Linked DNA regions of Homo sapiens. The protein of the gene in region 3 purifies or fractionates together with the protein of the main gene of each other region. This does not show direct contact. Each region holds a gene or a part of one and is shown on either strand. Other genes may lie near its edges. The genes, in order: ATG2B, ZYG11B and AP1G2.

What was found.
Region 1: the proteins of AP1G2 (region 3) and ATG2B purify together in Homo sapiens (affinity purification with mass spectrometry; 2 studies listed by BioGRID and IntAct, with this or other methods). This does not show direct contact.
Region 2: the proteins of AP1G2 (region 3) and ZYG11B purify together in Homo sapiens (affinity purification with mass spectrometry; 2 studies listed by BioGRID and IntAct, with this or other methods). This does not show direct contact.

The regions. Positions count from the first base shown.
Region 1 is NC_000014.9:96,351,634-96,362,521, forward strand, and holds part of ATG2B (autophagy-related protein 2 homolog B), read right to left. Parts: intron 1-10,888. UniProt on the Homo sapiens protein: Lipid transfer protein required for both autophagosome formation and regulation of lipid droplet morphology and dispersion.
Region 2 is NC_000001.11:52,811,387-52,822,274, reverse strand, and holds part of ZYG11B (protein zyg-11 homolog B), read right to left. Parts: intron 8,740-10,888; coding exon 8,542-8,739; intron 8,416-8,541; coding exon 8,363-8,415; intron 5,744-8,362; coding exon 5,646-5,743; intron 837-5,645; coding exon 646-836; 3' UTR 1-645. UniProt on the Homo sapiens protein: Serves as substrate adapter subunit in the E3 ubiquitin ligase complex ZYG11B-CUL2-Elongin BC. Acts to target substrates bearing N-terminal degrons for proteasomal degradation with the first four residues of substrates being the key recognition elements.
Region 3 is NC_000014.9:23,556,565-23,566,177, forward strand, and holds the end of AP1G2 (AP-1 complex subunit gamma-like 2), read right to left. Parts: exon of another isoform or gene 9,597-9,613; coding exon 9,500-9,596; coding exon of another isoform or gene 9,329-9,499; coding exon 9,252-9,328; exon of another isoform or gene 9,138-9,251; coding exon 9,042-9,137; exon of another isoform or gene 8,892-9,041; intron 8,636-8,891; coding exon 8,555-8,635; intron 8,277-8,554; exon of another isoform or gene 8,163-8,276; intron 8,097-8,162; coding exon 7,998-8,096; intron 7,825-7,997; coding exon 7,769-7,824; intron 7,658-7,768; coding exon of another isoform or gene 7,600-7,657; exon of another isoform or gene 7,596-7,599; coding exon 7,482-7,595; exon of another isoform or gene 7,293-7,481; coding exon 7,152-7,292; intron 7,075-7,151; coding exon 7,020-7,074; intron 6,939-7,019; coding exon 6,816-6,938; intron 6,719-6,815; coding exon of another isoform or gene 6,641-6,718; exon of another isoform or gene 6,535-6,640; intron 6,030-6,534; coding exon 5,940-6,029; intron 5,852-5,939; coding exon 5,724-5,851; intron 5,544-5,723; coding exon of another isoform or gene 5,528-5,543; exon of another isoform or gene 5,513-5,527; intron 5,503-5,512; coding exon 5,398-5,502; intron 5,310-5,397; exon of another isoform or gene 5,072-5,309; coding exon 4,948-5,071; and 11 more. Other genes in the region: THTPA (thiamine-triphosphatase), read left to right, coding at 194-740, 2,131-2,276.

The DNA.
Region 1 (10,888 bases), about 73 Mb from region 3:
GCTGAGGTAGGAGAATCACTTGAACCCGGGAGGCGGAAGTTACCGTGAGCCGAAATCGCGCCACTGCACTCCAGCCTGGGCGGCAGAGCAAGACTCCGTCTCAAAAAAAAAAAAAAAAATTAGATGGCATGGTAGCCCGTGCCTGTAGTCCCAGCTCCTTGGCGGGCTAAGGTGGGGATAATCGCTTGATCCCAGGAGGTCAAGGCTGCGGTTGAGCTGTGATCACCCACTGCACCCAAGCCTGGGTGACACAGCAAGACCTTGTCTCAAAAAAAAAAAAAAGAAAAAAAAATTTTTATGCTTATCAAAATGCATAAATTTATACTGTTTTGATCAACTATACACTTAACAATAATTGTAATTACAACACAATCCAGAAGAAAAGTAACACTTAAAGCCCCATGATTATCTGAAGGAAATAAAGTTATGCATCACAGAAGGACATCTGGTCAATGACAGACCATGTATAGGATAGTGGTCCTGTAAGATTATAATGGAGCTGAAAAATTCCTATCACCTTAGTGACATCGCAGCCATCATAAGGCAATGTAGCACAACACATTACTCACATGTCTGTGGTGATGCTGGTGTAAATAAACCTCTTGCTCTGCCAGTCATAAGTCTAGCACAAACAGTTATACACAGTACATAATACTCGAGGGTGATAATAAACAACTATGCTACCGGCTTCTGTTTTAATACCTATACTATACAATTTAATCATTATTTTAGAGTATACTCCTACTTTAAAAAAAAAAAAGTTAACTGTAAAACAGGCTCAGGCAGTTCTTTCAGGAGGTACCCAGAAGAAGGCATTGTTATCATAGGAAAGGACAGCTCCATGCATGTTACTGTTCCTGAAGACCTTCCAGTGGAACAAGATGTGGAGGTAGAAGGTGGTGACATTGATGATCCTTACCCTGTGTAGGCCTAGGCTGTGTTTTTTTGCGTCTTAGTTTTTGACAAAAAAGTTTAAAAATTAAAAAAAAAAATTAAAAATACAAAAAAATGCTTATAGCATAAGAATATAAAGAAAAAGTATTTTTGCATAGCTGTACAATGTGTGTTTAAGCTAAATGTTATTACAAAAGAAACAAAAAGTTCAAAAATTTTTTTAAAGTTTATAAAGTTACTGTAACCTCAGGTTAACTTATTATTGAAAAAAAAAAGATGTCTTTATTAATATAGTCTAGCCGAAGTGTACAGTGTTTATTCTAGCCGAAGTGTACAGTGTTTATAAAGTCTACAGTAGTGGACAGTGATGTCCTAGGCCTTCACATTCACTCACTGACTCACTCAGAGGAATTTCTAGTCCTGCAAGCTCCATTCATGGTAAGTGCCCCATACAGCCATATCAATTTTTATCTTTTTAAAATTTTTATTTTTTATATTTTATGCCATATTTGTACATACCTTTTCTATGTTTAGATACACAAATACCATTGTGTCACAGTTGCCTACAGTATTCAGTAACATGCTGTGCAGGTGTATAGCCTAGGAGCAATAGGCTGTACCCTATAGCCTAGGTATACAGTAGGCTATACCACTGGGTTTAGGCAAGTACACTATGACGTTCACACAACAAAACTGCCTAATGACCCATTTCTCAGAACATATCCCTGTCGTTAAGCAACACATGACTGTACTGATAAAATGAATATAGTAAGCCCTAGAGCAACCACTAAGAAACAATTTAAAAATACATACTGGGCTGGGCATGGTGGCTCCCACCTGTAATCCTAGCACTTTGAGAGGCCAAGGTGGGCAGATTGCCTGAGCTCAGGAGTTCAAGACCAGCCTAGGCAGCATGGTAAAACCCTGTCTCTACTAAAAACCCAAAAAATTAGCCAGGCATGGTGACATGGGCCTGTAGTCTCAGCTACTCGGGAGGCTGAGGTACGAGAATCGCTGGAACCTGGGAGGCTGAGGTTGCAGAGAGCCGAGATTGTGCCACTGCATTCCAGCCAGGGCGAAACAGTGAGAATCTGTCTCAAAAAAATTTCATATTTTATATATATATATATATAAATCATTAAAGGAATTAAAATGTTACACTAGAAAATATTTGCTTAATGCAAAAGAAAGCCTAATGCCAACAGAAAAAATTTAATATAAACAATTTCAATTTATATGTTTTTATTGTAGAGAAATGGCAGCATGATCAATAAAAGACAAGCATAAACTATATAAATTACAATGGAATCTTGCAAAGTAAAATGGACACAGGAGTTCAATGGAAAAAGACACGATGTTAAATTTCCAACTTTAATGAAGAGATTGTTCAAGCATTTTTTAACGGATAATGTGTACGATTTTTAAATCCCACTGGATGAAAAAAGTTATATTTTAATATCAATATTTAAACAAGTTATTCTCTACAACTATTTAAAATTATAATAAAAAGTAAGTCAATTTTAAACATACAAGGAATATGTAGTTTTTTAAAAAAAATTTCAGAGATAATTGAGCAAACATGGTTAAAGACCACTCCTTCATTTATTTTTTCCAACTTTTAAGTTCAGGGATACATGTGTAGTACATCCAGGTTTGTTACATACGTAAATGTGTCCCATGGTGGTTTGCTGCACAGATCATCCCATCACTTAGTATTAAGCCCAGTATCCATTAGCTATTCTTCCTGATGCTCTCACTCCTCACCCTCTGACAGGCCACAGTGGGTGTTGTTCCCACCATGTGTCCATGTGTTCTCATCATTCAGCTCCCACTTGAGAACATGCAGTATTTGGTTTTCTGTTCCTGCATCAGTCTGCCAAGGATAACGGCTTCCAGCTCCATCCACGTGCCTGCAAAGGACATGATCTCATTCCTTTTTATGGCTGCATAGTAGTCCACTGTGTGTATGTATACTTTCTTTATCCAGTCTATCACTGATGGGCATTTGGGTTGATTCCGTGTCTTTGCTATTGTCAACAGTACTGCAATGAACATAAGCGTGCATATATCTTTATAATAGAACAATTTATATTCCTTTGGGTATATACCCAGTAATGAGGTTGCTAGGTCAAATGGTATTTCTGCCTCTAGGTCTCTGAGGAATCGCCACACTGTCTTCCATAATGGTTAAACTAATTTACACTCCCATCAACAGTGTAAAAGCATTCCTTTTTCTCCACAATCTCACCAGCCCGTGTGTTTTGTTTTTGTTGTTATTGTTGTTGTTTTACTTTTTAATAATAGCCATTTTGAGTGGTGCGAGATGGTATCTCATTGTGGTTTTGATTTGCATTTCTCTAATGACAGTGATGTTGAGCTTTTTTTTCCACATTTGTTGGTCACATGTATGTTGTCTTTTCAGAAGTGTCTGTTCACATCCTTTGCCCACTTTTTAATGGGGTTGTTTTTTTCTTGTAAATTTGTTAAGTTCCTTACAGATGCTGAATTTTAGACCTTTGTCAGACGGATAGCTTGCAAAAATTTTCTCCCATTCTGTAGGCTGTCTGTTCATTCTGATGACAGTTTCTTTTGCTGTGCAGAAGCTCTTTAATTAGATAACCATTTCTCAGTTTTTGCTTTTGTTGCAATTGCTTTTTGCTTCTTCATCATGAAATCTTTGCCCATGCCTATGTCCTGAATGGTACTGCCTAGATTTTCTTTTAGGGTTTTTATAGCTTGGGGTTTTATAATTAAGTCTTTAATTCATCTTGAGCTGATTTTTGTATATGGTGTAAGGAAGGGGTCCAGTTTCAATTTTCTGCATAGGGCTAGCCAGTTCTCCCAGCACCATCAGGGAATCCTTTCCGCATTGCTTGTTTGTGTCAGGTTTGTCAAAGATCAGATAGTTGCAGGTGTGAGAAGCCCACTCCTTTAAAACAGCATATGTTCAGGTTACTTACTAGCTAGCTGGGTGGCTCTGAACAAATCCTTAATTTCCAAGTCTCAATTTCCTGGTCCATAAAATAGAAATAGTAACTCCACAGAGTTACTGTGACCATTAATGAGGTAATATATGTAAAACTACCAACATATTAATAGTTCCTGGTACTAAGCAAACACTTTTTAAATGCGGGCCATTGGTCTTTATCTTTCACAGTACCTACCTAGTACAATGATGAGCTCTATAAAGGAACTCAAGGTGTGCTTGACAATATGAAAAAAAAGCAAACATTAAATTATATATTTCTTCTTAATACGTAATTCCATAGATTAACTAGGCAAAGAATACATCTTTATTAGTTTAAACCAAGGCATCAGAATTCAAATCGAGATAAGACAGAGCATAAAAACGCGCATGAGCTGGCTGAGGGCGGTGGCTCACACCTGTAATCCCAGCACTTTGAGAGGCAGAGGCGGGGGAACACAAGATCAGGGGATGGAGACCATCCTGGCTAACATGGTGAAACCCCGTCTCTACTAAAGATACAAAAAAATTTGCCAGGCGTCGGGGTGGGAGCCTGTAGTCCCAGCTACTCGGGAGGCTGAGGCAGAAGAATGGCATAAACCCGGGAGGCGGAGCTTGCAGTGAGCTGAGATCACGCCACTGCACTCCAACCTGGGTGACAGAGCAAGAATGCGGCTCAAAAAAAAAAAAAAAAGTGCATGAGCTAATTTAGATTAACATTTCATCAGCACCTACTACAAACAGGACACTAGAGTGTACTATTTTATACCTACATTTACACCTGCATTAAATCTTCATAATAACCCTCCGAATTAGGTATTTTTGTGCCTACTTTACAAATATGGCAATTGAGGATCAGAAAAACTAAGTAACTTGCAAAAGGTCTTCAATTAATCACTGCGGAAACCCACAAAAAAGAGAAATGTATTTTCACATGGAAGATTTTGCAGGAGGCTAAGCAAAATCATGTGTTAACATATCATAATTTTTTTTAACGTAGTACTGGTTTGGGGGCTGGCTCATAGAACAAGCTTTTAAAACGCAATGGAAAAACTCTCCATTCCTTTAGTGCAAGTATTTTTAAAAATGCAGTCAAGGATCACATGTATCAGAATCTCCTAGGATGTTTATTAAAAATGCAGATTCTTGAATTTCTAGAGCCAAAATCTGTATGGAAGGGGCCAGAAGCCTGAATGTTAGCAAATTCCCAGGTGAACCCAGTGCTGTTATGTCTGAGAAGCTCAAGTTTCTTGAATCTGGGGCAGTGTGGTGTACAAAAAAAAAATATAAAGTCAGAAAGACAGGTTTCAAACCTTGCTGCACTGTTTAATACTAAGCTTGAGTAAGTTATTTAACCTCACAGTAAACAGAAAGTTAGTACCCAATTTAGAGTAAAATAATGTATGTAAAAGCACCCACACAGTACAGTATATAGAGATGGAAGGTATTTAATAAATGATCATTATTATTTTCAAAAGTAAACTAAAACCCCTAACCTTGCTCCATGTTCCCCCTAGCCATCAACCCCATTTTCTCTGTCAAGGTAGTTATCTGCTCAAACTGCAAACTACAAGCGACCTTCTAACCCTCAGCTCCTCTGAAACTGCTTGTAACCACCATTAAAATGACAAATGCAATAAACAATATTTAGTCCTCATCTTTATTGAATTCTCATCTCTACCTAGTTCCTAGGACCACTCACCTTTTTTGAAATTCTAACTTCCCTTGACTTCTGTAACACTTCACTCTCTCAATCTTTTTTCTGATCCTTTACAATTTAAAATGTTGGAGTTCATCTAAGTTTCATCTTCGGCCTTTTTTGTTTCTCAAGCTGATCTACTTACTACCCACGCACTTTGTGCAGTTCCATCTCCTGCCACTGTTATTCACTATTGATACTCTGATAACTCCCATATCTTTACAACTGCAATCTTCCTATACGTATATTCCCAGTGCCTCCTGAGCTTCTCTACCTGGATCTAAAGCCCCCACATTCTAAAGCCCCCTCAAAAATCAATATAGTAAAACTTATTCTCTGTCCAATCTCAATCTCCTCCTCCCACTCCCAACTCCAGACAGTGGAGAAAACCTGCTCCTTCTCTAGAATTTCCTATTTCACCATCAACTAGGTACCACAAGTTACGGTCATCAAGGTTCTTCCCTCTACTTGTGTTTTTCAGATTTTTTCATAGTTTTTTTTTTTTAAGAATGTTTGACACATTCCATTAAAAAAATGGCCCATCATAAAAGACTTCAAAAGGTAAGTAGAACTGCTTGCTTCATGTATTAAGTATTTCCACAACTAAAAGTTTGAAACTTTTGTACCATATTGTTATCTCTGGAAGAGATGGGATTAAGCTCTATTACTTCATACCTCATATATTTCTTTACTGTTTGAATTTTTTGTAATGAGCATATATTAATTGTATAGTAAAAATGAACTATTAAAAACCTAACAGTGTTTAAAACATATGGAGGCAATGACTTAGCTTCTGCAAACTGTCAACCTTAGACAACTATGAGAGAAACGGGACTTGATGGAACTCTCTTCTCAGTAAACACCAAGTTTTCGTCCCAATTTTGTGGCAGAGAAGTTGAAATAAAGTTAAACCTCTAAATACAAAAAGGTTTATTACAGCAGTGAAGAGTAATATTAAAGGGGCCTGGTACGGTGGCTCATGCCTGTAATTCCAGAAACTGGGGGGGGCTGAGGTGGGAGGATCACTTGAGCCCAGGAGGTCAAGATCAGCCTGGGCAACATAGTGAAATCCGGTCTCTACAAAAATTAAAAGAAATTAACTGGGTGTGGTGGTGTACATCAGTAGTCCCCACCTACTCAGGAGGCTGGATTGGAGGATCGCTTGAACCCATGAGTTTGAGGCTGCAGTGAGCTGATCACACCACTGTACTCCAGCCTAGGTAACAGAGACTGTCTCTAAAGAAAGAAAAGGAAAAAAAGAAAAAAACTGATAAATGTTAACAGTTTTGGAGAGTCAACAGTTCCAGAATTTACATTGCACCACTAAGCTACAAAATAATTTCCCTAAGTATAAGATGTTTAAATAGGTTATATTTATGCCCAGTCTTATAACCACTTGAGCAAAATCCCATATATCTTGTAGCATAAGGTACCTTGAAATTCAGTCATTCTGGGAAAATCCAAGGCTACTATAGTATATGAGTAGTAAAAATTCTCAACCTACTTGGCTCAAGCAACATTTTCCACACCAGTCCTATGAAGTGTTTCCTCACCAGTCCTATCAAGTATTTTTTTTTTTTTAGTCACCACTATGCTAACGAGAAAATAACTCTTAAACTAAAAGTGGAGACACCTGAACTACTCAGCAAATAAATGCCCCACCATAGAGTCCTTTAGAGCTTTTTATTCTTCTGTTTAAGGGTATTTTGCTTTCAATTATCATCAATGAGTTTCACGCATATAAACAGAAAAAGTGAAGGTAACACTCTAGTCTCCAGGTGACCTTTGACAAATAATCAGTAATCAATGTTTCTTGAACTGAAGATAATTTTATTAAACACCAAGAGAATATAAGCAGCAATCGAAACATTCTTAAACTGAAGTTAAAAGGCCTCAGTGGCCAGGCGTGGTGGCTCACGTCTGTAATCCCAGCACTTTGGGAGGCCGACATGGGCAGACTGCTTGAGTCCAGGAGTTCAAGACCAGCCTGGGCAACATGGCGAAATCCCGTCTCTACAAAAAATACAAAAAGTAGCCAGGTGTGGTGGCATGCACCTGTAGTCCCAGCTACTGCAGGGAGGGGAGGAGAGGTAGGAGGATCGCTTGAGCCTAGCAGGTTGAGGCTGCAGTAAGCCTAGATCACGCCACTGCACTCCAGTCTGGGTGACAGAGTGAGACCCTGTCTCAAAAAAAAAATAAAATAAAAGGCCTCAGTGTAATAAATTGTTAATGTGTATCTTCTTGAGCTCCTGTAAGAAAAGGGTCTTTGTTTAGTTCACTGCTATATCCCCCAGCCCCTCACAGTGGCACATGCTAAGAGCTCAATAAATGTACTGAATCGATTAATGAAAGAAATTCCATTTAAAAATCAAAAATAAAGGCACAGTCATAGAGTTAAAAAGGAATGAGTCATTAAATCCAACTTCCCACCCCAAATAGAATTTCCTCCTTTCAACATTTTGCCATTTCAACCACTTCTAGGGACAAGGAGTTTATGAAATTTTTAGACAGTCTATTCCAATGATGGAACAATCCCAAACCCCTTGCCTCTATTTCTCCCTCCACTTCATGCCACGTTTAAGGTAGTAATCTCCAAAACTGGATGCATATATCCTAAAGTATTATCAGATGATTCATAAGGATGTGAGAGGAAAATGAGACATTCTATATTAAATTTTCCAAATTTAGATTGAAAAGTTGTACTTATATTTAATATACAAATGGGCACTGGCACCTTCCTTCAAGCCACATATCAAACTGGTACAAAGAGAAAACTAGTAGTTCCACAACAGAGAAGGATTAAGAGTGGTGCCCTCAGTTGGATGTTCCTTCCACTTCTGCACACTGAAACATTTCCACATACATTCTATAGAATAAAACCAGACCTTTAAACAGTAGAATCTTTGTAAAGAGAAAGTGAATGGCAATTACCTTCTGGTTTCCTGGTTTCTCCTATGGCCAAGTGTTTAAGGGTTGGATTTAAAGATAAGCATTTTCCTTTTACACAGAGAAGAATTCTCCACTGACTATTTATGTATTTATGACAATGACTATCAGTAGTACATGCTACCTAGCAGATATTTTCCAAAAAACAAAACATACTTAATCTGTCTTTTCAAAATAAAGATAGCACTTTAATAATGAGTAAGAAAGCAACCACTTTTCAAAGACTACTTGTACTATGAGGAGAACATTTGAAAAACTGTATTTGGAAATGTTTCCATTGTTCCATGATTTTGTTGCTGAAAACAATGTCTATTAAAAACATTGCTTATTTTTTAAGTCATTATCTATATAGTTTACAAAATGTTTAAAAACATGAAAAGACTATTCCAACCAATCTAAGTCTTCTGAACAAAGAGCTTGAAAAACTGAATTTTAAACCTAATTGTGTGTATATATGCAATGTCAATTAGCCATAATAGAAAAACTAATTGAGATCAGGAATGAAAGGAATGTCATTGCTGAGTTCAACAAAATTCTTTGCATAATTGATCATTTAGAATTGAAACAGTAGGAGTACAGCAATTCTTCAATTAGCATCAGTTTTTCCATTAGGATCTGTGAATCTCCGAAGGTACCTTTTTTTCAGTCATGTAAGTCATTAAAATCAAGTATCTGGCTGGGTCCTATGGCTCATGCCTGTAATCTGAGCACTTGGGAGGCAGAAGTGGGAGGACCACTTGAAACCAGGAGTTCAAGACCAGCTTTGGCAACAAAGCAAGAGAATGAATCCTCTACCAAAAAAAAAAAAAAAAAAAAATCAAGTGTGAAAATAAACTGAATTTGGAATCAGAACTCTGAACAGCTGTATCTAAGGGTCACACTAAGATTTATCCTAACCATCAACACAGCACATGAAAATAAATCAGCAACAGCAAATGTTTACTGGATGCTTTGACATTATCATTTTAGTTTACAAAACCCGCCCATCAAGAACAAAACATCATCCTCAGATTAAGTTTAGTAATAAATCATTTTGCCAATGATTCTGAACTCAAACTATAAAATTCAAATATCACTACCTCTGATTTCCCATAAGGACTAAATAAAACCTCACAAATGAAAGTGCCTAGTACAATGCCTGACATAAATACATACTCAATAAACATTAACTGCCTTTCTTTTGATCTTAGGCCATGTGATGTAATACTTGCTAGATGTGTGATGGGGCAAACTGCTTAACTCCATCTGTAAAATGGAAATATTAATGCCCACCTTATAGGGTTAAAGTCATTAAAGGATAATGCATACAAAGCCCTTCCACCCACAAAAGGCATTAATAAATCCTGAACCCTCTTTTTTCAAGATAACCTATTCATAACTGTATCAAAAGTATAGAATCATGGGTTGTTGAATTCAAAAATATCCTTCAGAATCCCTATCTTTTGGAAGAATTACAGGAATACAATACCATAAGACGGACGACACAGAGATGAAGTGTGTGCTCCATTAGTGTTTACTGAACTCAGGTGAATTGCTAAGTCCATTATCACTCGGCTAATTGTGGCGGTCTGGAGAGTCTCTCCAGGGGTAGGACTCTCACCTCCTGGTGAGCGACTGGGTCTTACTGCTCTCAAACCAGGGCTCTTTCCACTATCTTGTGTCCTCTCCCTAGTTTATGTCAGGTACATACTGATAAAATTATATACTGATTTATAGTCTCTAGCACAAATTCGCTTAAGGGTCATAATAAGGTATTTCCATAATTTAAGATTTTCTGTGGCTAAGGAAGTAAGGGTTGGGCAAAGGGTAGAAGTCACTCTATTCCTGTCAAACCCAAAAGTGAATATACTTTAAGTAAAATGCTATGCATTGAACACACAAATGCAGGTACGACTGCATGTGGTGAGTCGAAATTCAGATGAAGCACCTGTATAGCAATGAGTGAATTCACAGCCTCTAGATGACAAGTAGAAGGCAGGTTTTAAAATGTCTGAAAATTGCAACTTCAGCGCTTTTGCAACACCTGCTTTTACGATCTGTCACGTGGAGCAAAGAGGCATAACTCAACAGCACTACTAGGGCCAGACGACCATTCACAGGCTGGATACACAAACCTATCTTGTAAACATATAATCAAGCAAAAGCAGGCAAACCGGCACAAGAGGCCTTCACCTAACTTTCTTCCAGATGGCAAACGCTGCACGATGACAAACAAGGCAAACATGGTGCGCAAGCAGCCAACCCAAAACAAATAACTAGGGATTCTGACATCCAAAGGTCCTCTTCATCCTTAATCCTTCCAGAATGTCATCCCACAAGGCAGGGTTTGTTTGCCACAAAACCCTGCGGCCCCTCACATCCCGAGGGACAGTTCTGGTCACCTC
Region 2 (10,888 bases), on a different chromosome or scaffold from region 3:
CTCCCGAAGGGTAGCCTGTCTCATTTTAAAACCTATACCATGAAACCAATTCCCAGTTCCTACACTCTGTTCTACCTTCATAATTTTTCTTTCTCATATATCTTTCCGCCAGCCATCCAGGCTCCTGCCAGTGATTAGCTTCCACAAGATGATCCACATTTCCCTTCTTTCACACTAAGAAGGACATCTTATAAAATATACACAGATAGAGAAGAAAGGCATTTTATACAGAAGCAGTATAAAATTTACAACTGAAGCAGTGTCAGAAATCAGGTCAACAGCTTATGTGAAGCTGCAAATTGATTGGAAGGGACTCTGAGATCAGAAAAGTCTGGCCTAAGGGTTCGTGCAAACTTTACCATAAAACTGTAGAATCTCAAGCACAAGTAAGTTCAAACACTGAAAGATGTGGAAAATTTCCTAAAAGGCAATGATAAAGGAAGAGACCCTTCTTGACTCATAAGTTTAAAATCACAAGACAAATTAGAGACTGTTCACATGGGCAGTACTACACATTATCAATCCCAAACTGATTTTATGACTCTTGTCATAGAAACCCCCAAAACATCAGGGAGGGTAAGATATTCCAAATGGACCAATCACAAAAAGGATTCCTGTGATTCAACTATCCAATACTTATGGCTATCAATTTAGTCTGGCTTGGGGCTGTTTTTTACAGGGAGGTGGCCTCCCATGGCGCACAATGTGTTTTTCTAAGCTATCCAGAATGGCCACAGCAATCTGTTGGACATGGGGATCAGTATGTTCATGATCTTTGATGTTGTATAAATGCTGCAATCCTCCTTCTTCAATCAGCATGCTGCAATACCTTGAAGCTGAAAAAGAAAAAAAAACACACACAAAACAGGAGAAATAGCTTTTCTTAAAACACTTGAAAATTATTCCACAAAAAAATGACTTCTAGGAGCCATTTTTTTTTAGCTGTTTTGTTATTGATCACTAACATGCTACAGCTTGATAAATAACCTCTATACTGATGTTACGTCTACAGTGCAAGGCCTACACATTCAATCAATAAATAGCTAGCTTGATTTTTCTAACCTCAAGACATGTACAACCTGTATTAAAAAAATAAAAACAATCATAACTACCTTATCTTTGACCCAAAATCACAGGTAAGTGTTGTTATATTTTTATGCATTTCCTATGCTTTTTTTTTTTTTTTAGACAGAGTCTTGCCCTGTTGCCCAGGCCAGAGTACAGTGGCGCAATCTCGACTCACTGCAGCCTCCGCCTCCTGGGTTCAAGCGATTCTTGTGCCTCAGCCTGGAAATACAGGCACATGCCACCACCCCTGGCTAATTTTTTTATTTTTAGTAGAGATGGGGTTTTACCATGTTGCCTAGGCTGGTCTCAAACTCCTGCCCTCAAGCAATCCTCCCGCCTCAGCCTCCCAAAGTACTAGAATTACAGGCATGAGCCATAATGCCAGGCTGCATTTACTATGCTTTTTAAAAACTTAATGGCACTCATACTGCACATACAATTTTTAAATTTTTGAAATATTTTATTAGCCTTTTTTTTTTTTTTTTTTTTTTTAAAGACAGTCTCATTCTGTTGCCCAGGCTGGGGTGATCATGGCTCATGCCCAGTGGTGTGATCATGGCTCACTGCAGCTTGCTGTGTTGCCCAGGCTGGAGTCCAATGGCACAATTTTGGCTCACTGCAACCTCTGCCTCCCGGGTTCAAGCAATTCTCCTTCCTCAGTCTCCTGGGTAGCTGGGACTATAGGCACCAGCCACCACACCTGGCTAAATTTTTGTATTTTTGGTAGAGGTGGGGTTTTACCACGCTGGCCAGTCCAGTCTCAAACTCCTGACCTTAAGTGATCTGCCTGCCTCAGCCTCCCAAAGTGCTGGGGTTACAGGTGTGAGCCACCACACCCAGCCACATTAAAACATTTTAATACAAATAGAAGTGAATTCCATTTAAATATAAACAAAATAAGCCCACAAGGTAGGAACCTAAACTATCTGAGTTGGAGACAAAATATTCTAATATTCCCCAAATTACAGTGCATTTTAGAATAAATTATTCAGGGGCTGGGCGTGGTGGCTCACACCTGTAATCCCAGCAGTTTGGGAGGCCGAGGCGAGCAGATAACGAGGTCAGGAGATCGAGACCATCCTGGCTAACGTGGTGAAACCCCGTCTCTACTAAAAATACAAAAAAATTAGCCAGGCGTGGTGGCAGGCGCCTATAGTCCCAGCTACTTGGAAGGCTGAGGCAGGAGAATGGCGTGAAGTGGGAGGCGGAGCTTGCAGTGAGCCGAGATCATGCCACTGCACTCTAGCCTGGACGACAGCAAGACTCCGTCTCAAAAAAAAAATAAAATAAAATAAAATAAATTATTCAGGGCTGTCATTCCATAGAGTAAAACCTAAATAACTCTAATACCTAAAAGTAGTGACAAAAATAAATACTCATATGAAAATGCACTATTATTATTATTATTATTATTTTTTTTTCAGACAGAGTCTCACTCTGTCGCCCAGGCTGAAGTGCAGTGGTGCGATCTCGGCTCACTGTAACCTCCACCTCCCAGTTCAAGTGATTTTCCTGCCTCAGCCTCCCTAGTAGCTGAGAGTACAGATGTGTGCCACAACCCACAGCTAATTTTTTGTATTTTTAGTAGAGATGGGGTTTCACCATGTTAGCCAGGATGGTCTCGATCTCCTGACTTCGTGATCCACCCGCCTTGGCCTCCGAAAGTGCTGGGAATACAGGCGTGAGCCACCATGCCCAGCCAAAAATGCACTATTATTTACTTATTATGTTTTATTTTCTCCTACTGAGCTGTGAAAGGTCCATTCCTTGAGTTATGAGGAAAGGAACCTATAGATTAGAGACTGGGAATATGATGGGATCAACTGTTAAGAAATTTGGGAGTCCTCAGAACCTGTGGGTACAGTAAAAAGAAAACGACTTTAGGGCAGAGACAGTTTAATGTAGCTAAAGAGGCAGTTTTCGATTTATGAGTGAACAACTCTGCTTCTGGGTAATGTAGTAGGAAGGACCGGATAAGCCTCCAGGTGGGAGTTCAGGTGGGTACAAGGCAGTTTTCTCGGTCACATCCCATTCATTGAATTATTCTTCTTTATCTGACACAGAAGAGCTTTTACTGCATTGCCTTTTTGTGGTATGCAGTGAGTTTTCATCAAACAATACAAGAGAAGGAGCTGGGTGCGGTGGCTCATGCCTGTAATCCCAGCACTTTGAGAGGCCAAGGCGGGTGAGTTCGAGACCAGTCTGGCCAAAATTGTGAAACCCAGCCTCTACTAAAAATACAAAAATTAGCTGGGCATGGTGGCGTGTTCCTGTAGTCCCAGTTACTCGGGAGGCTGAGGTAGGAGAAATGCTTGAATCTGGGAGGTGTAGGTTGTGGTGAGCTGAGATCGTGTCACTGCACTCCAGCCTGGGCAACAGAGTGAGACTCCGTCTCCAAAAAAAAAAAAAAAACCCAAGCGAAAATCTCACTAAATGTTACTACTTCTGCTATAAGGATATTAGTAAAAACAACTCTCACATATCCTATATAAGGCCCTTTATAGTATGTCCCCTATTAAGGTCCAATAGAAGAAATTTAATTCATAGTTAACTTCTCATAAAAAATTCTCTCCCCTCCCCATCTCCCCTGACAAGGATATGGAATGTTTCCCTCTTATATGGAGAACCATGTCGCTTTTTACTTGCAGCAGAGCCACAAAAATCCCTATGCATGGCCTACAAGTCTACATTTGACTATTTTCCCTCTATCCTAGAATTTTTTTTTTTCTTTTTGAGACAGAGTCTCACTCTGTCACCCAGGCCAGAGTGCATGGTGCCATCACAGCTCACTGCAGCCTTGCTTTCTGGGCTCAGATGATGCTGCCACCTCAGCCTCCCAAGTAGCTGGGACTACAGGAGCACACCACAACACCTGGCTAATTTCTTTTACATCTTTTATAGAAACTAGGTTTCGCCATGTTGCCCAGGCTGGTCTCAAACTCCCGGGCTCAAGCGATCCACTCACCTCAACTTCAGAAAATGCTGGGATTATAGGGATGAGCCATTATGCCCGGCCCCTATAATTTTTGAAAAATTATTTTTCCTTACTTCTAATTAAAACTAAAAGTAGGCCAGGCACAGTGGCTCACACCTGTAAGCCCAGCACTTTGGGAGGCCGAGGTCGGTGGATCACCTGAGGTCAGGGGTTCAAGATCAGCCCAGCCAAAATGGTGAAACCCTGTCTCTACTAAAAATACGAAAATTAGCCAGGTGTGGTGGTGCAGGCCTATAGTCCCAGCTACTCTGGAGGTTGAGGCAAGAGAATCGCTTGAACCTGGGAGGTGGAGGGTGTGGTGAGCCGAGATCGCACCACTGCACTCCAGCCTGGGTGACAAAGTGAGACTCCATCTCAAAAAAAAAAAAAAAAAAAAAAAAAAAAAAAAAAAAAAAATATATATATATATATATATATATATATATATATATATACACATATATATACACACTTTACTATTAAAGTGGTTCTGTGTATTTCTTGTGTCAAATCATTTGTGGAATGAGTTTATATTAATAAATAATTAGGCCACGCTTGATGGCTGACGCCTGTAATGCCAGCACTTTGGGAGGAAGAGGCAGGCAGATCGTTCGAGCCTAGGAGTTTGACACCAGCCTGGCCAACATGATGAAACCCCATCTCTACAAAAAATACAAAAAAAAGCCAGGTATGGTGACGTGCACTTGTAGTCCTAGCTACAAGCTGAGGCAGGAGGATCATCTGAGCCTGGACGTCAAGGTTGCAGTGAGCTGTTACTATGCCACTGCACTCCAGCTCCAGTGATAGAGACAGACCTTGTCTCTAAATAAATAAATAAGAGTTACATCGTAGCTTTCAAAGAATAATATAGAACCTGATTCAAACACTTTGCTTCTTCAGAAACCATGGGTGCTGGCAGCGACATCTTGAACAACAGAATTTTGGGTGAATGAGAATTGGGCACCGGAATGTACCATAAACAGTGGATCTACTTAAGACCTTTTACTCAACAAATGGACTCACTGTAGTCTCCTAATCTTTAAATTCCTTGAGGTGAGAACAGTGTCTCATTCACCACTATTATTCAGTGTCTAGTTACACCATGCTCATTCTGAAAGAATACCTTAAGTTGGCCGGGCACAGTGGCTTATGCCTGTAATCCCAGCACTTTGGGAGGCTTAGGCGGGCGGATCACCTGAGGTCAGGAGTTTGAGACCAGCCTGGCCAACATGGTGAAACCCCGTCTCTACTAAAAAAAAATAATAATAATACAAAAATTAGCCGGGCATGGTGGCAGGTGCCTGATATCTCAGCTACTCGGGAGGCTGAGGCAGGAGAATCGCTTGAACCCAGGAGGCGGAGGTTCCAGTGAGCCGAGATCGCGCCACTGTACTCCAGCCTGGGGAACAAGAGCGAGACTTCGTCTCAAAAAAAAAAAAAAAAAAAAAAAAAGAATACCTTAAGTTTATAACCTAAGATGGCCTTACATTTTAAGTCAGTGTTCTTAAAAATCACTTTAATACACAATTTAGAAATATCTTTCCTGGGAAATGAGAATTTCACTTAAAGAAAAAAAACACAGTTCTTTTTTTTTGGTACATACGATTCTTGCTGCAGACATGTTGCATGGCCCAAACTGCCCATAGCTGAACTCCTGGTGTTGTGAAACAGCCAAGTAATGGGAAAAATGGATTAAAGGACCTAAAGGTTCAAAAGAAAAGAATCAAAGTTACATCCCATATTTAGCGTAATTTCCTAAAGCAGTGATTCCTAAACTTTTCATTTTCAAAATTTTATCCTATTATATTTAGACTAATATAAATGAGCTATAGAATATCATTTCTTTGTCTTAACCATTTCAGAGAAGACTGCATTCAGACATGACTCAGTACAGAAGATGGAAGGTGATTAGAACATGGTAGTGAAAGAGAAAAAATTTTTCCAAAAGCACTTTTTAGTCTTAAAGATACACATTTGAAGATAAGTAGATCTTGGTTTGGAAACTAAGAAATAGAGAAATTAGGTGATAACTAACTAGTAGAACACTATGAAAAAGATGTATAATTATCCCTTCTATTTTCTACTGGTCTGAATAAAAATAGGTGGAACATAAGTTGGAGAAATAAAAAAAATGTTGGCAACATCAGCATTTATGAACCAAACAAAAAAAATAAGTTGAATAAAAATTAAATACTTCAGGTAATTAGTAATTTAATTATCAAGTTATCTAATTACAAACAGAGTTAGGCATCCAGTATGCACTTCTTAATTTTTGTTATTTATTTATTTATTTATTTTGATACGGAGTCTCGCTCTGTCGCCCAGGCTGGAGTGCAGTGGCGCGATCTCAGCTCACTGCAACCTCCGCCTCCTGGGTTCACGGCATTCTCCTGCCTCAGCCTCCCAAGTAGCTGGGACTACAGGCGCCTGCCACCACGCCCGGCTAATTTTTTTGTATTTTTAGTAGAGACGGGGTTTCACCACGTTAGCCAGGATAGTCTCGATCTCCTGACCTCGTGATCTGCCCGCCTCGGCCTCCCAAAGTGCTGGGATTACAGGCATGAGCCACCATGCCCGGCCTATTTATTTATTTTTACATTTATTTATTTATTTGAGACAGGGTCTCACTCTGTTGCTCAGGCTGGAGTGCAGTAAGGCGATCTCAACTCATTGCAGCCTCAACCTTCCAGGCTCAAGCGATTCTCCCACCTTAGCCTCCCAAGCAGCTTGGACTACAGGGATGTGCCACCACAACTGGCTAATTTTTTATTTTTTGTAGAGACGGGGTCTCACTATGTTGCTCAGGCTGAGCTCAAGTGATCTACCTGCCTTGGCCTTCCGAAGTGGTGGGACTACAGGTGTATGCCATCATGCCCAGGTTTTTTTATTTTTTAGTAGAGATGAGGTCTCACTATGATGCCTAGGCTAGTCTGCAACTCCTGAACTCAAGTGATACTACCACCTCAGTCTCTCAAAGTGTTGGGATTATAGGTGTGAGCCACCATGCCAGGCCCAGTATGCCCTTTAATAAATTATTACAAACTGTTTCCCCAACCAAATCTAGTGTTATTCCTTTTTTGAGAGTCTCATTCTGTCACCCAGGCTGCAGTGCAGTGGCGCCATCTCAGCTCACTGCAACCTCCACCTCCCAAGTTCAAGCGATTCTCATGCCTCAGCCTCCCAAGTAGCTGGAATTACAGGTGTGCACCACCATGCCCCACTAACTTTGTTCTTTCAGTAGAGACAGGGGTTTCAACATGTTGGCCAAGCTGGTCTCGAACTCCTGGATTGAAGTGATCCACCCACCTCAGCCTCCCAAAGTGCTGGGATTATAGGCATGAGCCACAATGCCTGGCCCAAATCTGGTGCTACTTCTAATTCCTTCAATGTGTCATTTTATTTTAGACCTTCCTACATTAATACGATGCTTTTTCTTCCTAAAAATCTCCTGCCTCTCCTTATCTTTCAACACTCAGGTCACAACTCACTTCCTCTGAAAGGTGTGTGTGTGTGTGTGTGTGTGTGTGTATTTACATTTGGAGTCTTGCTCTGTCACTCAGGCTGGAATGCAGTGATGCAATCATAACTCACTGCAGCCTCAAACTCCTGGGCTCAAGTGATCCTCCCAGGACTACAGGTATGTGCTACCCCACTGGGCTTCACCTTTAATTTCATAACATTCTATGGACATTTGGCATAACGGTATTTTATCTGATCCACATTCACTCTCCCTCACAAGGATATAAAATTCTTGTGTGCAGACACCATGTCTTTGTTCATTTTTGTATTTCAAGAGCATAGAACAAATTCCTAGCACTTGTCTTCAACAAATGTGAAATGAAGGAAACATGAAGAGTGATAGGTGGTAGAAAAAAGTCAAAATACTTTGCTTCTTTTAAAGCCAATACTTTTGGCTGGGTGTGGTGGCTCACGCCTGTAATCCCAGCACTTAGGGGGGCCCAGGCAGGCAGATCACCTGAGGTCAGGAGTTCAAGACCAGCCTGGCCAACATGGTGAAACCTCGTCTCTACTAAAAATACAAAAATTAGCGGGGCGTGGTCGTGGGCGCCTATAATCCCAGCTACTCGGGAGGCTGAGGCAGGGGAATTGCTTCAACCTGGGAGGTGGAGGTTGCAGTGAGCCAAGATCATGCACTGCACTCCAGCCATGGCGACGGAGTGAAACTCTGTCTCAAAATAAATAAATAAATAACCAATATTGAGGTGCCTGAGGGAAAAATTATGCATCTAGTAGGAATGACTCTTAGGAATGATCTCTAGACTAGGTTGCTGGTTTACTGTTAATTATGATACTAATTACCTGTATGCTACCATCTCACACTCTGGAGTTGGCCATTTCAAAATAGCTGAATGCTGGAAGACAAAAGACACACAAGAAAGGATTACAATATTTATTTAGCACTGCATTATTTACTACATTATGAGGCTTTGATAGTTTAACCACTATGAATGTCTTTTGTTGGTATGGAATGACCCTACCAAATCATCCAGCAGAGAATTCCTCTGGCTACGACTCAATGTCCAAGCTTGTTCACCTCTGGATATTAAATGGGCAATAATTCCAGCTGCAAAGTAACTGACTTCCACTTCCACACTGTGTAGGAGACTACTGATGTGGTCTATAAAATCTTTCCACATTAATTCAGAATGTAATTCTTGTACTTCAGCTATATTGTTCTGGAAAAAAAAAAGAAAATATAAAAATTAATGTAATATGTATAGTAAATGGTTAAGATAACTGTTTTTAGGCCCTGGATAACAGGCAATTCAGGAAGGTGAAAGAAAAGTATTTCCCTGAGAGAAAGTATTCAAATGAGGGCAGTTTACAGACTGCAATGAAGGTAAGAGTAAGCCAAAGACAAAGTAGCAGTTTTGTTGAAACAGAGATCATAGTTTAGGGTGGTCAAGCAGCAAAACTCTGTAGAACAGAGTGCTGGAAAGGACAAAGCTCCACACTCAGAGACAGAGCACACATGACCTGTACCCCAAATCTCTGGCTCAGTAATGACAAGGGTGAAACTCCAGGAGGCTAGGGAAAGAACTACCAGAAAGTAGTATATGAATAAATCCTAAAGTCACACAGGGATAGGAGTAGTTCACATTTCCACTAGCCAGACTCAAGAGACCTTATAATAAGCAAAGTATTTGATAGTAGTAGGGCTAAATTATATATGAACCGTAGGGTAAAGTCTGATAAGACGCCACTCTAACAAAACAAATAAATAGGGCTGGGTGTGGTGGCTCATACCTGAGAGGTTGGGAGTTTAAGACAAGCCTGGCCAACATGGAGAAAGCCCGTCTCTACTAAATACACAAAAATTAGCCAGGTGTGGTGGTGCATGCCTGTAATCTCAGCTACTTGGGAGGCTGAGGCACGAGAGTCACCTAAACCCGGGAGGCAGAGGTTACAGTGAGCTGAGATCCCACCACTGCACTCCAGCCTGGGAGACAGAGTGAGATGCCATCTCAAAACAAACAAACAAACAAACAAACAAACAAACCCAAAACAGCCAAGCATGGTGGTTCATGCCTGTAATCCCATCACTTTGGGAGGCTGAGGCAGGCAGATCACCTGAGGTCAGGAGTTCGAGACCAGCCTGGCCAACATGGAGAAACCCCATCTCTACTAAAAAAATAGAAAAATTAGCTGGGCGTGGTGTCATGTGCCTGTAATCCCAGCTACTCGGGAGGCTGAGGCAGGAGAATTGCTTGAACCTGGGAGGTGGAGGCTGCAGTGAGTGGAAATCGTATCACTGCACTCCAGCCTGGGCAACAGAGCGAGACTCCGTCTCACAAAGAAATAATAATAAAAATAAAATAAAATAAAATAACACATAAACAAGCTTCAAGAAGAGCAACTTGATCTGCAAGTAACTGCATGCAAGAACAAAGTATAAGACTCTTTAGAGAAAAATAATAAAACCTAGCAATCACCAAGTTACATTTCACAAGGACCGGCATCCAATAAAAAAATTACCAGGCATACAAAGGGGCAGAAAAATATGATTCATAACCAGGAGAAAAATCAATCCAAAGAAATGGACTAAAAAATAACAGAGATAATAGAATTAGCAGACAAGGACTTAAAGCAGCTATTATAAATATTATAAATATAATTCAGACATAAACATGAAGGGAGAAAATGAAGACATAAGAAAGACCTAAATGTAAATTTTTTTTTTTTTAGATGGAGTCTCGCTCTCGCCCAGGCTGGAGTGCAGTGGCGCGATCTCAGCTCACTGCAAGCTCCGCCTCCCAGGTTCACACCATTCTCCCGCCTCAGCCTCCCGGGTACCTGGGGCTACAGGCAACCGCTACCATGCCTGGCTAATTTTTTTGTATTTTTAGTAGAGACGGGGTTTCACCATGTTAGCCAGGATGGTCTCAATTTCCTGACCTCGTGATCCGCCCGCCTTGGCCTCCCAAAGTGCTGGGATTACAGGCATGCGCCACCGCGCCTGGCCAACCTAAATGTAAATTATAGAAATTAAAAAAAAAACAAAACTAAGTATCTGAAAAGCAAAATATATTGGATGAGATTAACAGCAGATGAGATGCTTCCGGAAAAACAATCAGTGGACTAAACAACAGAGAAATAAAAAGCATCCATGGCAGGGCATGCTGATTTACACCTGTAATCCCAGCACAGGAGGTTGAGGTGGGAGGATCACTTCAGGCCAGGAGTTCAAAACCAACCTGGGCAACATAGGGAGACCCTGTCTCTATTCACACACACAAAAAGAAATAGAAACCATCCAAATCAAAGCACAGAAGAAAAAATCAGACTGGGGAAAAAAGCCAATAGTGGAGTTCTGGGACCTGTGGG
Region 3 (9,613 bases):
CACCGACGGGGCCTTAATGTCACCGAGGTAGAGAGAAAAGGGCAGTAGCCCTAGAGACTATTGCGACACAGTGTGCCCCTCATAAGTTTTTCCAGGGAGGGGTTCTGTACTGAGTTGACGCCCCAGGAGCTGAGCACCAGGCTTTGCATCCTTGGGAACTCAGCAAACGTTTGTTCAGCCAATTGCAGGTAGCATGGCCCAGGGCTTGATTGAGGTGGAGCGAAAGTTCCTTCCAGGGCCTGGCACAGAGGAGCGGCTGCAGGAGTTGGGGGGCACCCTGGAGTACCGGGTCACCTTCCGAGACACCTACTATGACACCCCTGAGCTGAGCCTCATGCAGGCTGACCACTGGCTGCGACGACGAGAGGATAGTGGATGGGAGCTCAAATGTCCTGGAGCAGCAGGTGTCTTAGGACCCCACACGGAGTATAAGGAACTCACAGCGGAACCTACAATTGTGGCCCAACTCTGTAAGGTGCTGCGGGCTGACGGCCTGGGGGCTGGAGATGTGGCTGCTGTGCTGGGCCCACTGGGGCTGCAGGAAGTAGCTAGTTTTGTGACTAAGCGGAGTGCCTGGAAGCTGGTGCTCTTGGGAGCTGATGAAGAGGAGCCACAGCTCAGGGTGGACTTGGATACAGCCGACTTTGGCTACGCTGTGGGTGAGGTAGAGGCCCTGGTGCATGAGGAGGCTGAAGTACCAACTGCCCTAGAGAAGATCCACAGGCTCAGCAGCATGCTTGGTGAGGGAGACAGGCCCTTTTGTGCTTTTCCTGCTCCCCACTTTTCTCTTTTGGAGGCACCTGCTGGACCATGCAGTGGGGGAGGGCCTCCGGATTAAAAATTTTTTTTTTAATAGAGACAAGGTTTTGCCGTGTTGCCCAGGCTGGTCTGGAACTCCTGGACTCAAGCAATTTGCCTGCCTCGGCCTTCCAAAGTGCTGGGATTACAGGTGTGAGCCTCTGTGCCTGGCCTGGATTATTTTTGTAATGGGAATTGTTTTAGCAATTTTCTAAGTTTGCTTACAGTTCTGTGAAATCTCGTTTTCTCTTTAACAGTAGCTAATTTGGATCTAGTCCTTCCACGTGTCTAATTCCAGCCAACCTGCCTCATTTAGTTCTCATACCTATAGCCAGATCTCCTTCAGTTTCATTTCTCAGTTCCCTGCTTTGACTCTTCCTTCCCCCAATCTCTTTTTTTTCTTCTTCTTCAGTCACCACTCCTCCACAAGGAGTAAAAAGTAAGCCTTTTTACAAAAGCTGCCCTCTGGGAGGCTCAGACCCAGGATCTTCAGATCATGAGACTGATGCACTGCCCACTACACTGAGAGTCCAACCAGTCTTGTCCTTTTGTTTTACAATTACCTAGATCCTTTTAATTTGTCCTTTTGGCTTTTTGTAAAGGACAATAACATTATAGTTATGTGAGACAGTGGGGCATGATTTGGCAGATTTGTTCCTAAGCATAATTCCCTTGTAGACAGTTCATCCACACTAGGAATTGTGCATCCCATGGGGCCTTACAGCCCTGCAGTGCTGTTTGAGCCCCCTCAGCAAACATACACTGAGTTCCTTGCTATGTGCCCAGCATGCTGCCAGGCACTAACAACAAGACACTGGCAACAGGCAGTTCCATTCTCACCTCACCATGTAGAGGCGAGAATTCTATGTGAATCCCACCCCATGGCTATAGCTTCCCTCCTCTTCTTTCTATAGCTCTTGGTTTCTATGTGTACATCTCTGCATGTGCTTCATTACTAAGCTAATGAGCTTTGGCCTGGTCTAGGGCTTTAATCTTGATTGCGGAACAGGGTAATAACTGAAATGAGCTGACGCTGAGGCATCCTTCGTTTATCTTGGTGCCTGGGTGCCTCTTCGCCATTTCTCCTTGCTGGAGGAGAGAGGCTGAGGTGTGGCTTCTAGTCCCACTCTTGCCTGAAGTTGCTCTTTTAGGTCCCACTTCCACAGGCAGGCAGGGAGTGGACTAGTGTGTTACAGAAGCTGGGTGGGTGACATTCAGAACCCCAGTGTGGCTTTGGAAACATCCACGGAGTCCTGGCTAGGTGGGCAGGGAGCAGAGTCCAAGTGCTTGTGGCTCTGTCCATTTCTCTCCTCATTGTCCTTTTACCTGTAGGTGTGCCTGCACAGGAGACAGCACCAGCCAAGCTGATTGTGTATCTACAGCGTTTCCGGCCTCAAGACTATCAGCGCCTGCTAGAAGTGAACAGCTCCAGAGAGAGGCCACAGGAGACTGAAGATCCTGACCACTGCCTGGGCTAGGGGTGTCACTTCCTAGAAGGGGAAGGGAACTCTGGGTCTAACGGAGTCCACTCCTGGGCCCACTGTGCCTCTCCCCTCAGTGTCCCTTCTGACAGTGACTCCTCTCTCTCCAGCGCTGCCTGTTTCTTCCCCCTCCTCTAAGCTACTCTTCCTTGAGCCCTCCCTGGCTGCTTCCTCTCGCTCATCCGTCAGATGCAATCTGTGGGCCGCCCCTCTCCCCTGGCCGCTAAGCAGCCTCCATTGATTTCCGCTCGTGTTTATAGGATTTCCACTTAGCCGTGATCAGTAGTTAAGCACAGGAAAATCCCTTGCCACCCCCCCTCCCTTGGTCGATGCCATTGATTCTGCCAGCGGCTCCTAAACCGCCTTACAGCTGAGTTAGAAGATGAGGAGAGGCAGCAGGGATTTCCCTGCCTTGGGATGTGGGAAACAGAAGAAAAGTTGAGGAAATGGTTGGGAATCGCTGTTAGAACTCTAGAAATTCTAATCTGACTTTGCCACTGTGCCCAGCTCTGGCCCAGAGGGTAGAGTGCCTCCTGTGGAAGTTTAGGGGCAAATTTGTTCCCTGACCTGGAGAGGGTTAGAAAGAACCAACAGCTGCCCCCTCCCCGCCCCCGTGTTGAGACAGGTTCTCAAGGCTCAGGGGAAGATGCATACCTCCTATGTAAGAATGCTCTTCCCTTGCTGTTATTCATACACACTTTCCACTTCAAATATACCCAAATATGGCTTTCCTCACTTCTCAGGCTTTATTGGGCTTTATTTGTGGGAGAAGGGGGCTGGTCCCCAGTTTTTGCAGTGCAAAGCCAGAGCGCCACCTGCTGGTAGCCCTCAGGTGTAGGTTCGAAGCTGCTGGGGCCCCCTGGGGTTTGGGACACAGGAGAATTTCAGGCTGTGAGTGGAGACAGTTACTGCCACGATTCCACAGGCAAGTTGTTCACCTCAAAGATCTCCTGCACCGACTGGTGAAAGTGGTCGTAGGTGAGGCGCAGCTTTAGCCGCAGGGGGGCCTAGGAATAGGAGAGCAGGGACCAGGGTTAGCACCCACGGCTTCTTCTATCCCTGGGTCTTGTCTTGGGGGAACTCCTGAAGCTCACCTTGTTAGGATTGAGGATTCTGAAGAGCTGGGTGATAGGAAGGCCACCCCGAGCTGGAACTGTGTTCCCACTGGGGGCCTGCAGCTGCAGCTGGAGACTCTGAACACAGGAGTTTAACAGAGCACAGTATGGCAGTAGGTAGGGCTCAGGCAGCCCCTCTATACTCAGTGGCTCCACACCCTTTTCCTGTAACTCCCCAAGTGCTGATCTCCAGATGACTCAATCCCATCTCACACTGTCTCCCACCCACCTCCTCCACTTAGTGGCCTTTTCTCCTGGAGTCCCCAGGCCACCTCTGAACTCTGATCTTTACAAACCTTGGGCACAGCAGCCTGGCAGATGAAATGGGTGACATCACCCTCTGAGAAGTTGGTGGCAGTGATGGTGATTAACAGCAAAGCAGGGTTTTCAGGGGGTCGAATGAAAGACAGATTCAGCTGTACTCCCTCACGCTCAAACACTTTGAGATCTGGGATGGGAGCTGGAGTAGGGAGACAGAAGCAGCTCAGTGTGCAGGTTTGAGAGAACATGTTTGTTCATTCATTCAACAAAAATTGAGTAAACACCTACTGGCCCTGCACTACTCGAAAGGCTAGTAACAAAGTAGACATGTAGATGAGGATGGAGCTTACTGTCTAATGGGGGAGAGAAACAATAAAAAAAGGCCGGGCGTGAGCCAGTAATCCCAGCACTTTGGGAGGCTGAGGTGGGTGGATCACCTGAGGCCCGGACTTGGGAGGCTGAGACACAAGAACAGCTTGAACCCGGGAGGCAGAGGTTGCAGTGAGCCGAGATCACGCCACTGCACTCCAGCCTGGGTGACAGAGCAAGACGCTGTCTCAAAAAAAAAAAAAAAAAAAAAAAAAAAAAGGCAAGATAATTACAGACCATAATAGATGCTATGAAGGAAGTAAGTCATGCCAGAATAACTGGGGAGAACTGACTTAAATAGGAGTGGTAGGGGAAGGCATCTGACATTTTAGCTGAAGCCTGAAGAGTGAGAATGAGCTGGTCATTTGATGTGCTGGGGAAAGAACATTCCATGTAAAAAAGAACATGAAATGCCAAGGGTGGGAGGGTGTGAGGAGCTGAGAAGGGGGCAGTGAGTGGGTAGTGGGAAAGTGGTATAAGAAGGGTTGGGGAGGAAGCAGGGCCCTGTAGGCCAGGGAAAGAAGTCTGGAACAAAGGGAAGACAGATGACCATGATTGACTTCATTCTTTTACCTCCTGAGATGGCGATGGGATGGGGGACACACAGGAAGAAGCAGGGTCCATGAGCCTCAGCCCTTGGCTTAGGAGGAGGAGCAGTACATTTCCACCTACCTTCTCTAAGACATCTTCCCTTTGCTTAGGCTTACCTGGGGGTGGAGGTACACAGGGAAGGTCAAGCAGGTGTACCAGGGCACCTCCTGGGGAGGGGTCCAGATGGGGAGGATGCTGGACATCCCCAGAAGCCCCATCCAGGAGATCTAGCAGATCCAGGAGCTGTGAGGCCTGGCAGAAGGGACAGAAGGGGCAGGGCTGGGTATGAAGCTCAGCCCGTCTTCCTACCCCAGAGTTTCTAGCCTTCTCACCTGGGGCTCTGTGGGCACTGGGGCTGCTTCTGAAAGCTGGGCTGCTTCTTTGCTTTCCTTTGCTTCCTCATCAGCCTGAGGGCCATCTCGCTCCACAAGAGGCATTTTTTCCAGGATGGCAGCCCTGAGAGGATGGAATGCAAGTGTGCCTCTGTGTGGTCTCTGGGCCTTTCACAAGAGGCATCTAGGATGAGGACTAGGAATATGGAGCCCTGGGCACATGGTGGCTCAGAAGTACCCTTCTGATTTCCTAAAATGACATGTTGTTGCTGATTTTCAGATGAACAAGGAGGGTTGGAAGCCAGCTTAGCTTCAATTAACAGTGGGTGGGAAGCTCTCACCGTGGATATGGAAGAACACAGGTGAGGATGAGGCCCTTGTACCTAGAAAAGGGCATTTGGGAGAGGGCAGGGGTTTGGGTCCCATGCTGCAGCACAGTGCTGGACACACCTCATGTGGTCGTATTTCCGGAAGAGTGTGTCATACTCCACAGCCCGCTGCTGCAGCTCCACGTCCAAGCAGCTCCCGTAGATGGACACCACCTGGCGGATGCGGCTGGGCCAGTGTAGTATGTAAGTGGCTATGGCAGTGTGCCACTGCAGGATGTGGCAAGAAGGAAAGGCCCACGGAGCAGGGAAATACCCAGATTTGGCTCAAAAACAAGAACCTAAGGGCTAGGGGGTAGGGAGGGCTGGGCATGTATGCCTGGAAAGAAACTCAAAAATGGGTGGACCCAGTGACAGGCCATCTCTCAAGGGGCTGGGACCCCTTCTTACTTGTTGTCCCCACAGAGGCGAGTGCTGAGCTTCATGAGGGCTGTGAGGGCATATCCTCGAGTGGCTGGCAGGGACATGTGGGACTGCAGCACCTTTTCCAGCAATGCCAGCACTTCCTCTTCGTCCACCTTCAGACATGGATACAGTTAGTGGCCCTGGTGCAAGTCCTGTCCCCCTGACAAGTCCCTCCTCAGTGTACCCCCAATGAGGTCTCACCTGAAGGGGCTCAATCTCCTCGCAGTTCCCTGCCAGCAGGAGGTCCCCATACTCCCCAATGCACCAGGCTGCCACCTGCACCAGTGGTTGCTACATGGGATAAGAAACTGCTGGGCTGGCCAGGCATGGTGGCTCAAGCCTGTAATCCCAGCGCATTGGGAGGCTGAGGCGGGAGGATTGCTTGAGACCAGGAGTTCAAGACCAGCCTGGGCAACAAAGCGAGACCCCCCCCATCTCTATTTTAAAAAAAAAAAGAGAGAGAGAGAAAGAAAGAAACACTGCTGGGCCAGTGTCTGAGGTCCCCTCCTCACTTCCAGACCTGGCAATATCCCTTTAGGCAGTGCAGAGATGGTGGGGGGTTGGAGGAGTGGGGAAAGGGAAGTTTGTTACCTGGCTCCCACTGCCCTCTGGTGGCCAAGCATCAGAACTACATGGCCTAACCAAACAGGATGGAAATGTGAGAGGGTCCCTCCCTTGTGGAAGGGGTGGATGATGCTTTCTGCCCACCCTATTTAATTAAGATGGAAAAGGGGGCTATAGATACTGGCTGGCATCTGTTAATTCATTCAGCATTCAAGGTAATAATAAAACCTCATAAACACAAGAGCTTTAATCTCAAGGCAGCTCTAAGAGGCAGTCAGGGTACATGGAGCATAAGGGAAGTTAGTCATCTGTAGTTACATAACCAGGAGGTACCAGAGTCAGGACAAAAGCCCAGATGTTCTTAAAAACAGGGCTCTGTGCTCAGATGTCTTCTGCACTGTGTAAGCAGCTGTGACCTTGAGAGAAAAATTGGAATCTAGTAGGGAGGAGGTGGCCCAGGATGGGCAAGGGAGTGGTTGGGCAGCCCTGGGCCTAGGTAGGTGGGAATGGTACCTGGGAAATGTCTTCTGCCAGGGCATTGTAGAGGCGGCGCACAGAGTAGGCATGTAGCTCCTGGGCCCCCCCAATCAGCTGGGTCAGGTTGGCCACTGCATCATCCCGCACATGGGTGCCCGCCTGGAAGGTGTGGGCATGGCCAAGTCAGTGTGGTGAATCTTGACCACTTCTGCCCAGCTCTCTGACTGGCCCCTGCCTCACCGTTGTCAGCACATGCAGGATGGTGTCTATGTGCCAGCGTTTGGTTGGAGCAAACCTAGGGGATATATGGCTCATCAGTCCTGGTACTGACGCTCCCCAGATTCTACCCTCTTCGACTCCTGGGCACCTCACCTCTCTGCAGCCAGCAGGATGCCTGAGGCACAGTCAGCCCGTAGGTCAGGAGGGCAGGACTCCAGAAAGGCCTGCAGCTCTTGCATCATGGCTCGCACATTGGAGCTATTTACCAGAGCCAGGCTTAGTTCCAGGGCTCTCCTGGCAGGAGAAAGAGGTTTCCATGCAGGTAGCCCAGGTCATCCTGGTCCATGCCTCAGGCCCTCTGCTTCCCCAGGGACCTGTCCCCCTTAGTCCCCTTACTCCAGCTGCTCTAAACTGGCTCGAGTCTTGGCCACAGGGCACTGGGAACCTCTGCCCTGCCCTCCTGTCCCCTCTATCACTGCTCACCGGCTGAGGGAGGCATCAGTTTCCCGTAGACATTCCACCACAGTGGGCCGATGCCGCTGCACAGCACTGTGATCAGACTGCACCAGTCGAAGCAGTGATGTCAGGGCTACATACCTGGTCAGGATGGGGGAGGTTCTATCATACCATGGCCATCAGCCCCCACTCCCCGTCCTGTCCTGGGTATAGGGATAAGATAAGAGAGAAATGGATCAGGAGGCTCTGGAGGAAGGAGGGCAGAGGGCCAGGGGATCAGTGGCACAGCCTAGGTAGACAGTTGGGACTATTACCTAATGTTCCTGTCACTGTTGAGTAGGAAGCGACCAAGAATGTTGACAGCTAGAACCTATGAGAGGCAGAAGTTGGGGTCAGTCGGAAAGGAGCAACCTGCTCAGCCATTGAGGACTGGGAACACATTGGCGCAAGATGATGGGGCTAGGAGGGAGAAACCAGCAAGCAGGACCTGTGTGGGTGAGGTGGTGGGCGGGGCCGTAGTGGGAGAGGCATAAGGGGTGATACCCGTAGGCCAGCTGCAGAGCGGATATCCATGATGGTGAGTACTGTCTCAAACAGGACCGCATTTCCGGCATTTCGGCTGGTGTCCGTGTTAGTGGCCACCTGAGTGGATGAGAGAGGAGATGTATCTGCTCAAGGCCCTCCTCAGGTCTCCTTTTTTTGATACAGGGTCTCACTCTGTCGCCCAAAGCTCACTGCAGCCTTGACCTCCCAGGCTCTGATGATCCTCCTGCCTCAGCCTCCTGAGTGGCTGGGACTACAGGCACATGCCAACAAGCCCAGGTAATCCTCAGGATTCTTGAAGGACTCCAACATGTTATCTGTCCATCCTTCAACCATCCAACAAAGTTCCCTGAGGCTCTACTATGTGCCAGGGCCAGCCTGGGCACTGGGGCAATAGCACTAAGACAGACTGTGTCCCTTCTTCATGGAGTTCACTGTCTAGAGGAGATGGAGAGGCAATTACACGGCCACTGCACAGTGACGAGTCATGTGAGGGGCACCCAGGGCTGATGGGGTCTCCAAGCAACACAGCTAACCAGTGCCCTCCCAGGCCCCACCTGGGCCAGCAAGTCATTCATGGTCTCACTGCTCTCCTCGTGGTTCCGGCCCAGGATCCGAAGCAGACGAAGTATCTGGACCTGAGGTTGGGTTGAAAATGGAAAGTTGGAGGGGTTCATAGGATAAGGAGTCGTGGGGCTGAGGAGAAAACTCCAACATGTGAGGGTCTGGCTCGCTCCCTAGAGCCTTCCCCCACCTCCTCACCTCCACAGGTCCCTTGGTCCTAGGAGGGGAACAGAGGTGTGTGAGGCCAGGGGAGTTTAGGACAGGCTTAAAAAAAAAATTGTTAACAAACTGTATTTTCCTGACTTTTAGGCATTCCCTCTCCCCTCACAGGTCCTGGGATGACCCGAGCAATCCTGTGCCTGCTACTCTGCTGCCCAGGACACTGAGAGAACCAGTGTTCTCTGGGAGGAAACCACTGGTCATGGTCTTACTGCTATGCCCTCTCTGATCCAGGGATACAGCAGTGAAAGGTCACCCCACCTGCAGGAAGGGGTCGCTGACTCCAGATATGCTGTGTTCTGTGGAGTATCCCATTGTCACCAGAGTCCGGAGGATGTGTACCAGCTGGGGTACCACCTGGAGGGAGGGCACAACTTTGGGCATTCGTTCTAATCCTCTCCAGCTAAAGCCCCATTCCTTCCCCACTGACCCTGTCTTCCAGGCCCAGGGCCTGCCCCTTCACCAGCCCACCTTTCGGAAGTGCCTGAGGGCTGCAGGGCTTCGTTCGCAGAGCTCCGTGATCAGCGTGATGGTGCCCAGCAGGATGCCTGGGGTCAGCGTCGGGGAAGTGAATGGTGGGGGCCAGGGGCAAGAGAGTCTATTGCGTGTGTGCCTGTGTGTGTGCACTACCCTTCTCCTGTGAGCTGGGGTTCCCATCCGATTTTCAATTCTTCTGTCCATAGACCTGAAGCAAAGGATGGGGGGCCCCACAGCCTTACCATGGTGACGCTCATGAAGCAGTTGGGCACAGGGTGGGAGGAAGACACTGGAGAGTTCAGGGACCTTCCGGATCATGTGCACTGCAGTCAGAATAGCCTGCAGAGGTCAGGGGC